2 linked regions of the Homo sapiens genome follow. The gene in region 1 interacts genetically with each later gene. Each region holds a gene or a part of one and is shown in the gene's direction. Other genes may lie near its edges. The genes, in order: FIGNL1 and SWSAP1.

Region 1 (4,014 bases):
TTTATGTATCTATAGTTCCATTGTTTTTAAAATTTAAAATTAATTTTAAACCTTATGAATGCTTTCCCTACAGATAAAATTATGTAACTAGAACAATTTAACTCATATAAATTATTATTTAATCAAGTCCTTAATTTTGAAGACTTCATATTGATATGTCTTGAATACTTGAAATCTATAGTTAACTAGATATTTCTCTTATAACCTGTCCTTATAAATCTACATTATAAATAAAAAGTCCAGTGTCCCTTCCTTCAGATTAGCAGAAGTTTCAAAATTACATTTAAAGTATTTTCTTTGTTTTCCTTCATACTGATTTTCATTTTTATTGTTTGTTATAGAACCTCTAAAATGCAGACCTCCAGCTCTAGATCTGTGCACCTGAGTGAATGGCAGAAGAATTACTTCGCAATTACATCTGGCATATGTACCGGACCGAAGGCAGATGCATACCGTGCACAGATATTACGCATTCAGTATGCATGGGCAAACTCTGAGATTTCCCAGGTCTGTGCTACCAAACTGTTCAAAAAATATGCAGAGAAATATTCTGCAATTATTGATTCTGACAATGTTGAATCTGGGTTGAATAATTATGCAGAAAACATTTTAACTTTGGCAGGATCTCAACAAACAGATAGTGACAAGTGGCAGTCTGGATTGTCAATAAATAATGTTTTCAAAATGAGTAGTGTACAGAAGATGATGCAAGCTGGCAAAAAATTCAAAGACTCTCTGTTGGAACCTGCTCTTGCATCAGTGGTAATCCATAAGGAGGCCACTGTCTTTGATCTTCCTAAATTTAGTGTTTGTGGTAGTTCTCAAGAGAGTGACTCATTACCTAACTCAGCTCATGATCGAGACCGGACCCAAGACTTCCCGGAGAGCAATCGTTTGAAACTCCTTCAGAATGCCCAGCCACCTATGGTGACTAACACTGCTAGGACTTGTCCTACATTCTCAGCACCTGTAGGTGAGTCAGCTACTGCAAAATTCCATGTCACACCATTGTTTGGAAATGTCAAAAAGGAAAATCACAGCTCTGCAAAAGAAAACATAGGACTTAATGTGTTCTTATCTAACCAGTCTTGTTTTCCTGCTGCCTGTGAAAATCCACAGAGGAAGTCTTTTTATGGTTCTGGCACCATTGATGCACTTTCCAATCCAATACTGAATAAGGCTTGTAGTAAAACAGAAGATAATGGCCCAAAGGAGGATAGCAGCCTGCCTACATTTAAAACTGCAAAAGAACAATTATGGGTAGATCAGCAAAAAAAGTACCACCAACCTCAGCGTGCATCAGGGTCTTCATATGGTGGTGTAAAAAAGTCTCTAGGAGCTAGTAGATCCCGAGGGATACTTGGAAAGTTTGTTCCTCCTATACCCAAGCAAGATGGGGGAGAGCAGAATGGAGGAATGCAATGTAAGCCTTATGGGGCAGGACCTACAGAACCAGCACATCCAGTTGATGAGCGTCTGAAGAACTTGGAGCCAAAGATGATTGAACTTATTATGAATGAGATTATGGATCATGGACCTCCAGTAAATTGGGAAGATATTGCAGGAGTAGAATTTGCTAAAGCCACCATAAAGGAAATAGTTGTGTGGCCCATGTTGAGGCCAGACATCTTTACTGGTTTAAGGGGACCCCCTAAAGGAATTTTGCTCTTTGGTCCTCCTGGGACTGGTAAAACTCTAATTGGCAAGTGCATTGCTAGTCAGTCTGGGGCAACATTCTTTAGCATCTCTGCTTCATCCTTAACTTCTAAATGGGTAGGTGAGGGGGAGAAAATGGTCCGTGCATTGTTTGCTGTTGCAAGGTGTCAGCAACCAGCTGTGATATTTATTGACGAAATTGATTCCTTGTTATCTCAACGGGGAGATGGTGAGCATGAATCTTCTAGAAGGATAAAAACAGAATTTTTAGTTCAATTAGATGGAGCAACAACATCTTCTGAAGATCGTATCCTAGTGGTGGGAGCAACAAATCGGCCACAAGAAATTGATGAGGCTGCCCGGAGAAGATTGGTGAAAAGGCTTTATATTCCCCTCCCAGAAGCTTCAGCCAGGAAACAGATAGTAATTAATCTAATGTCCAAAGAGCAGTGTTGCCTCAGTGAAGAAGAAATTGAACAGATTGTACAGCAGTCTGATGCGTTTTCAGGAGCAGACATGACACAGCTTTGCAGGGAGGCTTCTCTTGGTCCTATTCGCAGTTTACAAACTGCTGACATTGCTACCATAACACCGGATCAAGTTCGACCCATAGCTTACATTGATTTTGAAAATGCTTTTAGAACTGTGCGACCTAGTGTTTCTCCAAAAGATTTAGAGCTTTATGAAAACTGGAACAAAACTTTTGGTTGTGGAAAGTAAGTGGGATACTTGGAATCAAGGCATCTCTGTAGTACAGTCTTCTTTATTTTTTAGCATAGAAAGTTGGGGATGTGTTAATTGTATTTTTAAGAATATATTCTAAGTTCTGTACTTCAAATAATAGCACAGATTTTACATCTGATTGACATAGTGTATGTTAATGTAAGTTTTGCTTTCCAGTGATTACCTGATACGTAAGCCTATTTGAACAAAGTGAGAATGAACTTTTGTTTCTAAGAAGTCTTTATCTTGAAGCTATATAACATGAAAAGTGAGCTCAAATTTTTTTTAGTTGAAGATTACATATAAAGTTGTGTCTGATTAATATTCATCTTTTATTGAAGAAAGTGCCTTCTGATGGCCACATAATTCTTAATGTCAGCTAGTATAATGGTTTACATTTGGACAAAGTATTGCTTAGTGTTATTTAAGTAGATTTAAGATCTCAAAGCTAAAGTGCCAATTTTTACTTTCTTCAGCCAATTTGTTACCTCTTTTATGGTTTTTAATTTTTATCAGGACTAACATTTTCAGAAATAGCAAGGTGTGATCTAGTATTAGATTCACAGAACTGAAAGGTTAATTAAGAATGTTGGTTATTTTCACGGGAGCGTGTGATATTTAACATTAATATTTTATTTGACACTACAGCCTGTAATACTGCTCTCTTTCAAAAACAAGTTTTCAGATTTTTATAACAGACCCATTTTGTTTTATGAAACATGTTCATTACAGAAACATGAGAAAATAGAGATAAGTAAAAAGAATAAAAGTCACTATTATCCTACCACTTTGCGGGACACACTATTAATATTTAAGCATAGATTCTTCCAGATGTTTTGTTTTATACAGCAGTAGGATTGTGTAATGTATTCTCTCTTGTAGCCTATTCTTCAAAGCGTATCTTCACTTTCCATGTTAACATAAATGTCCTTTTATGATTGTCTAGGATTCCATGGATGGATGGAATATAATTGAGTCATCTGGTAGAGCGCATATAGGACAGGACGCTAGGTTGTTTATCTTTTGTTTATTGTAAAGGAACTATGTGGGATGCATTTGGTGATCTTTTTAAAAAATGTATAAATTTCTTGAGTAATTCCTGGATTAAAGAATATGCACTTTTTAAAGCTTTTGGCTTGCATTCTAAATTGTCCTCTTGAAAAAGTAGTTCCTGTGTAAAACTCCATCTGCACTGAATCAGAGCTATGGCAGCATTGGGCAGTAGGCAGTTTTGGTATTTGTTGGCATTCTTTTTGCATTTATTCAAAAAACTGAAGGTAGTGAACGTAGAGCAATGAACAACACAAATATCCTTGGTCTCGTGGAGGTTATATTTAAGTTCTAATGTTTTCTCTTGTGAACAGTGCAATTTGAAATGACAAATTGAAACACTTTTAGTTGTTGAATTTAGACAGTTTGTGTATATAGTTTAAATTTTTATTCTTGGTTTGCCTTCTGTTTTTATGTTAAAAGATTGTTGCAATTTTTAGTTTTTCCCTTTGTAATATGTGATTGTCTTTCATTAGAATTCATTTTTTGTTTTGTTTTGGTTATTTTGAAACAGTCTCGCTGTGTTGCCTAGGCTGGAGTGCAGTGGTGTGATCTCAGCTCACTGCAACCTCTGCCTCCTGGGTT
Region 2 (7,123 bases), on another chromosome or scaffold:
CGGTGGGGAAGTTGAGGAGATGGTGGAGCTGATCATGGGCCACTGGGGGGATGAGATGAGAGCATCAGATAGCTGATGGCAGAGGAAAGACAGCATCATGAGGCCCCCTGATTGACTGACCAAGGCTCCTGTTTCCAGAGCTTATACACCTGAGACCCGTGGTCTCTCCTGACACACAGCTGTCTCCACTGGGGCCAGGAAGAAAGCAAAGCTTCAGCACAACGGACAGCGCCACCACCCAAACCAGCAGGCCCTGTCTGTGATGCTGACGCAGAGCGCTGGCCAACAATGGGAATAGTGGGGGAAGAATCAGGTCCCATTCAGGAGGGTGGTGACAGCAGCCCTGGCCTTGCACCAACCCCCATACTGGGATAGATGATCTTAGAGAACACAGGCTGGCTTGTACCTGTTTGGGATTGGCTGGGCGTGGTGGCTCACGCCTGTAATCCCAGCACTTTGGGAGGCCGAGCCAGGCGGATCACTTGAGGTCAGGGGTTTGAGACCAGCCTGGCTAACATAGTGAAACACCATTACTACTAAAAATACAAAAAATTAGCTGAGCGTGGTGGTATGCGCCTGTAATCCCAGCTACTCAGGAGGCTGAGGCAGGAGAATCGCTTGAACCCAGGAGGCAGAGGTTGCAGTGAGCAGAGATCATGCCATTGCGCTCCAGCTTGGGCAACAAAAGCGAAACTCCAGCTCAAAAAAAAAAAAAAAAATGAAAGCCTTCTCAGCTGGGCACAAGTGGCTCATTCCTGTAATCCCAACACTATGGGAGGTCTAGGTAGGAGGATTGCTTGAACCCAGGAGTTTGAGATCAGCCTAGGCAATGTAGCAAGACCCTGCTCTCTAAAAAGTAAAGCGTTTAGGCCTGGAGCAGTGGCTCACGCCTGTAATCCCAGCACTCAGAGAGGCTGAGGTGGCAGATCACCTGAGGTCAGGAGTTCAAGACCAGATTGGCCAACATAGTGAAACCCCATCTCTACTACAATTACAAAAATTAGCCAGGAGTGGCAGCATGCGCCTGTAATCCCAGCTACTCAGGAGGCTGAGGCAGGAAAATCACTTGAACCCGGGAGGCGGAGGTTGCAGTGAGTCCAGATCGCACCATTGCACTCCAGCCTGGGTGACAGTGCGAGACTCGGTCTCAAAAAATAAAAAAACGACAACAACGACAACAAAAATCAAAAGCCTTCTCAACATGCCCCTGTGGGTCTCACAGCATCTCAATCTCAAGTTGACTAAAACAGAGCTCTCTGATTTAGAATGTCACAACACAACTATCCCAGGCACAGAGCTCTCTCCTGTCTCCTCATGACTCGAGTAAAAGCCAACTTTCTCCCAATGCCTCAGGGCCCTTGCACTGAATGAATTCTCCACCTAGAATGTTCTTCCCCTGCATATTTGCACAGTTCACACCCTGACCTCTCTCAGGCCTTTTCTCAAATGTCGCCTTCCCAGCCTGACCCAACCACCCTATTCAAAATTGAAAAAACAACTGGCCCTTCCTTCTAACTTCCCTTCCTTGTGCAAATTTCTTTTCTTTTTTTTTCTTTTGAGATGGAGTCTTGCTCTGTCACCCAGGCTGGAATGCAATGGTGCGATCTCAGCTCACTGCAACCTCCACCTCCTGGGTTCAAGTGATTCTCCTGCCTCAGCCTCCTGAGTAGCTGTGATTACAGGCGCCCCACCCCGCCCAGCTAATTTGTGTATTTTTAGTAGAGATGGGGTTTCACCATGTTGGTCAGGCTGGCCTCAAACTCCCGACATCAGGTGATCCGCCCGCCTCAGCCTCCCAAAGTGCTTGGATTACAGGGGTGAGTCGCCGTGCCCGGTCCCTTGTGCAAATGTCTTTTTGCCTATGCTTGTCATGTGCTCACAGTGTTTCAATTCCTCGTGATGCTCAGTGGGTCTTTATAGGTCTCCCTCACTCGGATGTCGCTCCACCAGGACAGAGATTTGATCTGTTGTCTGTTCACTGTGGGGTCTACAGTTACTAGAATGGGCCCTGATACATAGTAGATACTATTGCTTGAGGATGCCAGTAAACTAAGGATAGGCACAGAGTGACCCCAAGCCACCTAGTTCCTACCCTGTAGCCCCAGGTCCAACCCTACCTGCAGGCAGGTACATTCCTCCATGATTCTCCTCTATGGTAAATCTTCTTCTGTCAAGATGTGAAGACAGGCCAGACACAGTGGCTCATGCCTATAATCCTGGCACTCTGGGAGGCCAAGACAGGCGGATCATCTGAGGTCAGGAGTTTGAGACCAGCCTCGCCAACATGGTGAAACCCCATCTCTACTGAAAGAAATACAAAAGAAAAAAAAATAAGCTGGGCATAGTGGTGTGTACCTGTAATCCAAGCTACCCGGAAGGCTGAGGCAGGAGAATTGCCGGAACCCGGGAGGTAGAGGCTGCAGTGAGCCGAGATCGCGCCACTGCACTCCAACCTGGGTGACAGAGCGAGACTCCGTCTCGAAAAAACAAAACAACACAACAACAATAACAACAAAAACAGATAATCAGTTAAAGAGTGAAATGTGTGCAATTTTGGGCAGGCAGTCAGGGGAAGCCTCTCTGAGTAGATGATATTTTGACCAAAGACCTAAAAAGAGTGGAGGGAAAAAAAAGTCGGCTGGACTCGGTGGCTCACACCTGTAATCCCAGCACTTTGGGAGGCCAAGGCGGGCAGATCACCTGAGGTCAGAAGTTTGAGACCAGTCTGACCAACACGGAGAAACCCCGTCTGTACCAAAAATACAAAATCAGCCGGGCGTGGTGGTACATGCCTGTAATCCCAGCTACTTGGGAGGCTGAGGCAGGAAAATCACTTGAACCTGGGAGACGGAGGTTGTGATGAGCCAAGATTGCACCATTGCACTCCAGCCTGGGCAACAAGAGCAAAACTCCATCTCAAAAAAAAAAAAAAAAAAAAAAGCCAGAAGGATATCTGGAAGCTGACTGCTGCACACACAAGAACATCAAGTGCAAAGGACTTGTGGTGAGGCTGTATTCAGCATGCTCCCATGTATGTAACTGTGCTGGACTCTGTGATGTGGGTGTCACTACTGAGTATTTGTGCATTTTTGTTTGTTTTTGTTGAGATAGGGTCTCGCTATGTTGCCCAGGCTGGAGTGCAGTGGCACAATCACTGCTCACTGCAGCTTTGACTTCCTTGGGCTCAAGCAATCCTCCTGCCTCAGACTCCCAAGGAGCTGGGACTACAGGTGCACGCCACCACACCTGGCTAAATTTTTTTTTTTTTTTTTGAGACAGAGTCTCGCTCTGTCGCCCAGGCTGGAGTGCAGTGGCGCGATCTCGGCTCACTGCAAGCTCCATCTCCCGGGTTCACGCCATTCTTCTGCCTCAGCCTCCCAAGCAGCTGAGACTACAGGCGCCTGCCACCATGCCTGGCTAATTTTTTTTTCTATTTTTAGTAGAGGCTGGGTTTCACCGTGTTAGCCAGGATGGTCTTGATCTCCTGACCTTGTGATCTGCCCACCTCGGCCTCCCAAAGTGCTGGGATTACAGGCGTGAGCCACCGCGCCCGGCCAACACCTGGCTAATTTTGAAGTATTTTGTAGAGATGGGGGTCTCCCTACATTGCCCAGGCTGGTCTTGAACTCTTGGCCTCAGGCAATCCTCTTGCCTTGGCCTCCCAAAGCACTGGGACTACAGACATAAGCCACCACACCTGGCCTGTATGTGCATTTGGAGTGTTGAAATGTGAGGTGAATCATGCGTTGTATATCTGCTGGGGGATGGGGGCTGAGGTGGCGTGTTTGACAGCGCAGTGTATCGGTGTGCTTCACTGTGTGTGTCTGTGTGTGTAGTGGCAATGTCATAGTTGCGTGTTTTGCAAGAGAAAGGGTGTGGGGGATGAATGTGGGACAGAGTTTGTATGGGATGCTTTGTGTCAGGATAGGGCAAGGTTGGAGCATGTGGATGATGGGGATTCTGAAAGTAGAATATATTCAGAGATGCCATGGTGTGTGTGTGTGTGTGTGTGTGTGTGTAGAGGGGTGTGAGTGAGCCCAGCTGTGTGAGTGGGTGTGTTGGGGGATGTCGTGGAGCTGTTTTCTGGTCCCAGAGGGAGAGAGAAAGCCCAGGAAATCTCACTTTCTCCCTGCCCCTGGGTCTCCAGGCAACGGCACCACTTTGGAGTTACCAGGAGACAAGGTTGCCAGGGCAACACAGGCGTGAGTGGCAGCTCTGGGGCGAAGTCTGGGTGAGAAGATCCAGCCAGGGATCACGATCATTCACTTTGTTCCTCCCTTTCTCCCTGTTTCTCATCAATCCCACCTCCCTTCCTTCATTGTCTTAACGAGCACGTATTTGAGAACCTACAAATGTGCTAGGTGCTATTCTCGGTACTGGAGAACAGAAGTGAACAAGACAATGTCCCTGCTGTATCTCTCCTTCAGTCTTCCAGCTCCTGTCTCTTTATCTCTCCTGCTTCCTTCTTTGTCCTGCGGTCCTGCCTTCCCCCCGTACCACAAAGGCGGCCCCACAGAACCCCTTAGCCAGTGAGGAAGTAAGTTGAGAGGCTTCATCTCACAGACTTTCGGGGATGGCCGTTGATGTTTTGTCCACGAGCCTGTGTCCCCAGACACACACTCCGGCCCATACTCAGGTGCACAGAAAGACAAGCACACAGCTCATCCCCCTCTCCAAAACTCTCAGTTGTCATTGGATGACATCAGCAAAACCACACACAAATACATGCCGATCACAATACTCCTCTGAGATATCATAAGCCCCATTTTACAGCAGGGCAAACTGAGGCTAGGAGCCTTTAAATAATATGTCACTCATTCTGGTCTACTCCTCCAACTTTCAACCCTTATATTTGTCTGATTAGCTGACAATAATAGTATTCGTGCTGGTTCCCCCAGCAGCCTCCCTCAGGGAAGGGTCTTATTTCCCTCGAATGCACCCATTCCTCCGCATAGGTTCTAACCATTTGCCCATTCACCTGAGGAATCGAGTTTTGATGGACAGATTCCTAGACCAATAGAGAAACTAAGTGAACTGTACCGATGCGGCCACGGCTTGGGCGGGACTAAGGCTGGGAACGAGCCACCGATTGGTCAGAGCTACGCGGCGAATGGCGGAGACGCTGAGGCGGGTGCTAACCAGGGGCGGTGCGGCCTGGTCCGGGGAGGAGAACATGCCTGCCGCCGGACCGCCTTTGCTGCTGCTCGGTACACCAGGATCTGGAAAAACAGCGCTGCTATTTGCTGCGGCCCTAGAGGCGGCGGGGGAGGGCCAAGGCCCAGTCCTCTTCCTGACACGAAGGCCTCTTCAAAGCATGCCCCGCGGGACCGGAACGACTCTAGACCCAATGCGACTCCAGGTAACCGTGGGGGTGGGAGCAGAGGCGTTCTAGCCAATGGTGGAGTAGATCCGGGATATTGAGTAACAGGTAGACAAGCCAATGGAGAGGACGGTGGAAGAGCGAGCCAGGGCAGCCACGATGGGGCGGAGTCAGGCAGGCGGAGTGAGGAGTGGCACCACGCGGAGCTTAGTTAAGATTGAAGTGAGAGCCCATCCAATGATGGGCGGTGTTAGCAAGAGGCGGTGCCCAGAGATTGAAGTCCGGCCCATCAAGGGGCGGGGCTAAGCTTGGGTCCATTCTGGACCTGAGTTGGTTCCTGTTAGTGTCAAGGATGGGGTCAGACCGAGAATGCTGGGGGAGGGTTTTCCGTGGAAAAATTGCGCTAGAGATTTGGCCAAAAACAAACAAGCAAAAATGGCTTGCCCTCAACTAATACTCGGCAGTGATGAGTGCTGGAAAAACGGGCGAATATAAGAATATTTAACAGCTCTGAACTGGTTCATCCTGGAACCAAGGAAAGTATGCAAGGAGGCAGGGTTACTTTTAAGGAGTCTGGCTTCCTGTGCTGAATCCGGCCCTTTCCTTCTGTTTCTCCTTCTAGAAGATCCGCTTCCAGTACCCACCCTCAACCCGAGAGCTTTTCCGGCTCCTGTGCTCTGCCCATGAGGCCCCGGGGCCAGCCCCCTCCCTTCTGCTGCTCGACGGCCTAGAAGAGTACCTAGCGGAAGACCCAGAGCCCCAGGAAGCCGCCTACCTCATTGCCTTACTTCTAGACACAGCTGCCCACTTCAGCCACCGGCTTGGGCCTGGCCGGGATTGTGGGCTCATGGTGGCCCTCCAGACCCAGGAGGAAGCAGGTAGTGGGGACGTCCTGCACCTGGCACTGCTCCAGCGGTATTTTCCTGCCCAGTGCTGGCTGCAGCCAGATGCACCAGGTCCAGGAGAGCACGGCCTCCGAGCCTGCCTGGAGCCAGGCGGGCTGGGCCCCAGAACAGAGTGGTGGGTGACTTTCCGATCAGATGGAGAAATGATGATCGCTCCGTGGCCCACCCAGGCTGGTGACCCCAGCTCAGGCAAGGGTTCAAGCTCTGGAGGCCAGCCCTGAGCTTTGGTGGGTGACTACCTCTCTGTGCTTCAGTTTCCCATGGCTGGAATACTTACCTCAGGGACATATGCAGATCCAAAGACCTAAACAATGTAAAGTGCTTTTTCTCTTTTAAAAGTATAGCATTATCTTGTATATATTTTACCCAATCAATATGTTGTTTATAGTTTCATTGCTTTAAACTTTATAAAAAGAGCTTCAGGCCAGGCGTGGTGGCTCACGCCTGTAATCCCAGCACTTTGGGAGGCTGAGGCGGTCAGATCACCAGAGGTCAGGAGTTGGAGACCAGCCTGCCCAACATGATGAAACCCTGTATCAACTAAAAGTACAAAAAAAATTAGCTGGGTGTGGTGGCAGGTGCCTGTAGTCTCAGCTACTCAGGAGGCTTAGGCAGGAGAATTGCTTGAACCCAGGAAGCGGAGGTTGCAGTGAGCCGAGATTGTGCCACTACACTCCAGCCTGGGTGACAAAGCGAGACTCCATCTCAAAAAAAAAAAAAAAAAAAAGTTTGAGACTTCCTTCTTTTTGCACTCAACGTTGTTACTAAGATTCATCTACATTTTTTTAGTTCATTCCTTTTTCCATATTGCATATAATTCCATGGGTGACTATACCCTGATTTCTTCATCAGATTGCCTTATTTACTGCTGCGAACATTCTTGCACACATGCCCTGGT

Evidence for each region.
Region 2: of FIGNL1 (region 1) and SWSAP1, a change in one rescues a mutant of the other (synthetic rescue), as found in Homo sapiens cells (one study listed by BioGRID).

What each region holds. Positions count from the first base shown.
Region 1 is NC_000007.14:50,443,625-50,447,638, reverse strand, and holds the end of FIGNL1 (fidgetin-like protein 1), read left to right. Parts: intron 1-341; 5' UTR 342-351; coding exon 352-2,376; 3' UTR 2,377-3,506; downstream 3,507-4,014. UniProt on the Homo sapiens protein: Involved in DNA double-strand break (DBS) repair via homologous recombination (HR). Recruited at DSB sites independently of BRCA2, RAD51 and RAD51 paralogs in a H2AX-dependent manner. May regulate osteoblast proliferation and differentiation.
Region 2 is NC_000019.10:11,369,571-11,376,693, forward strand, and holds SWSAP1 (ATPase SWSAP1), read left to right. Parts: upstream 1-5,095; 5' UTR 5,096-5,110; coding exon 5,111-5,359; intron 5,360-5,942; coding exon 5,943-6,446; 3' UTR 6,447-6,599; downstream 6,600-7,123. UniProt on the Homo sapiens protein: ATPase which is preferentially stimulated by single-stranded DNA and is involved in homologous recombination repair (HRR). Has a DNA-binding activity which is independent of its ATPase activity.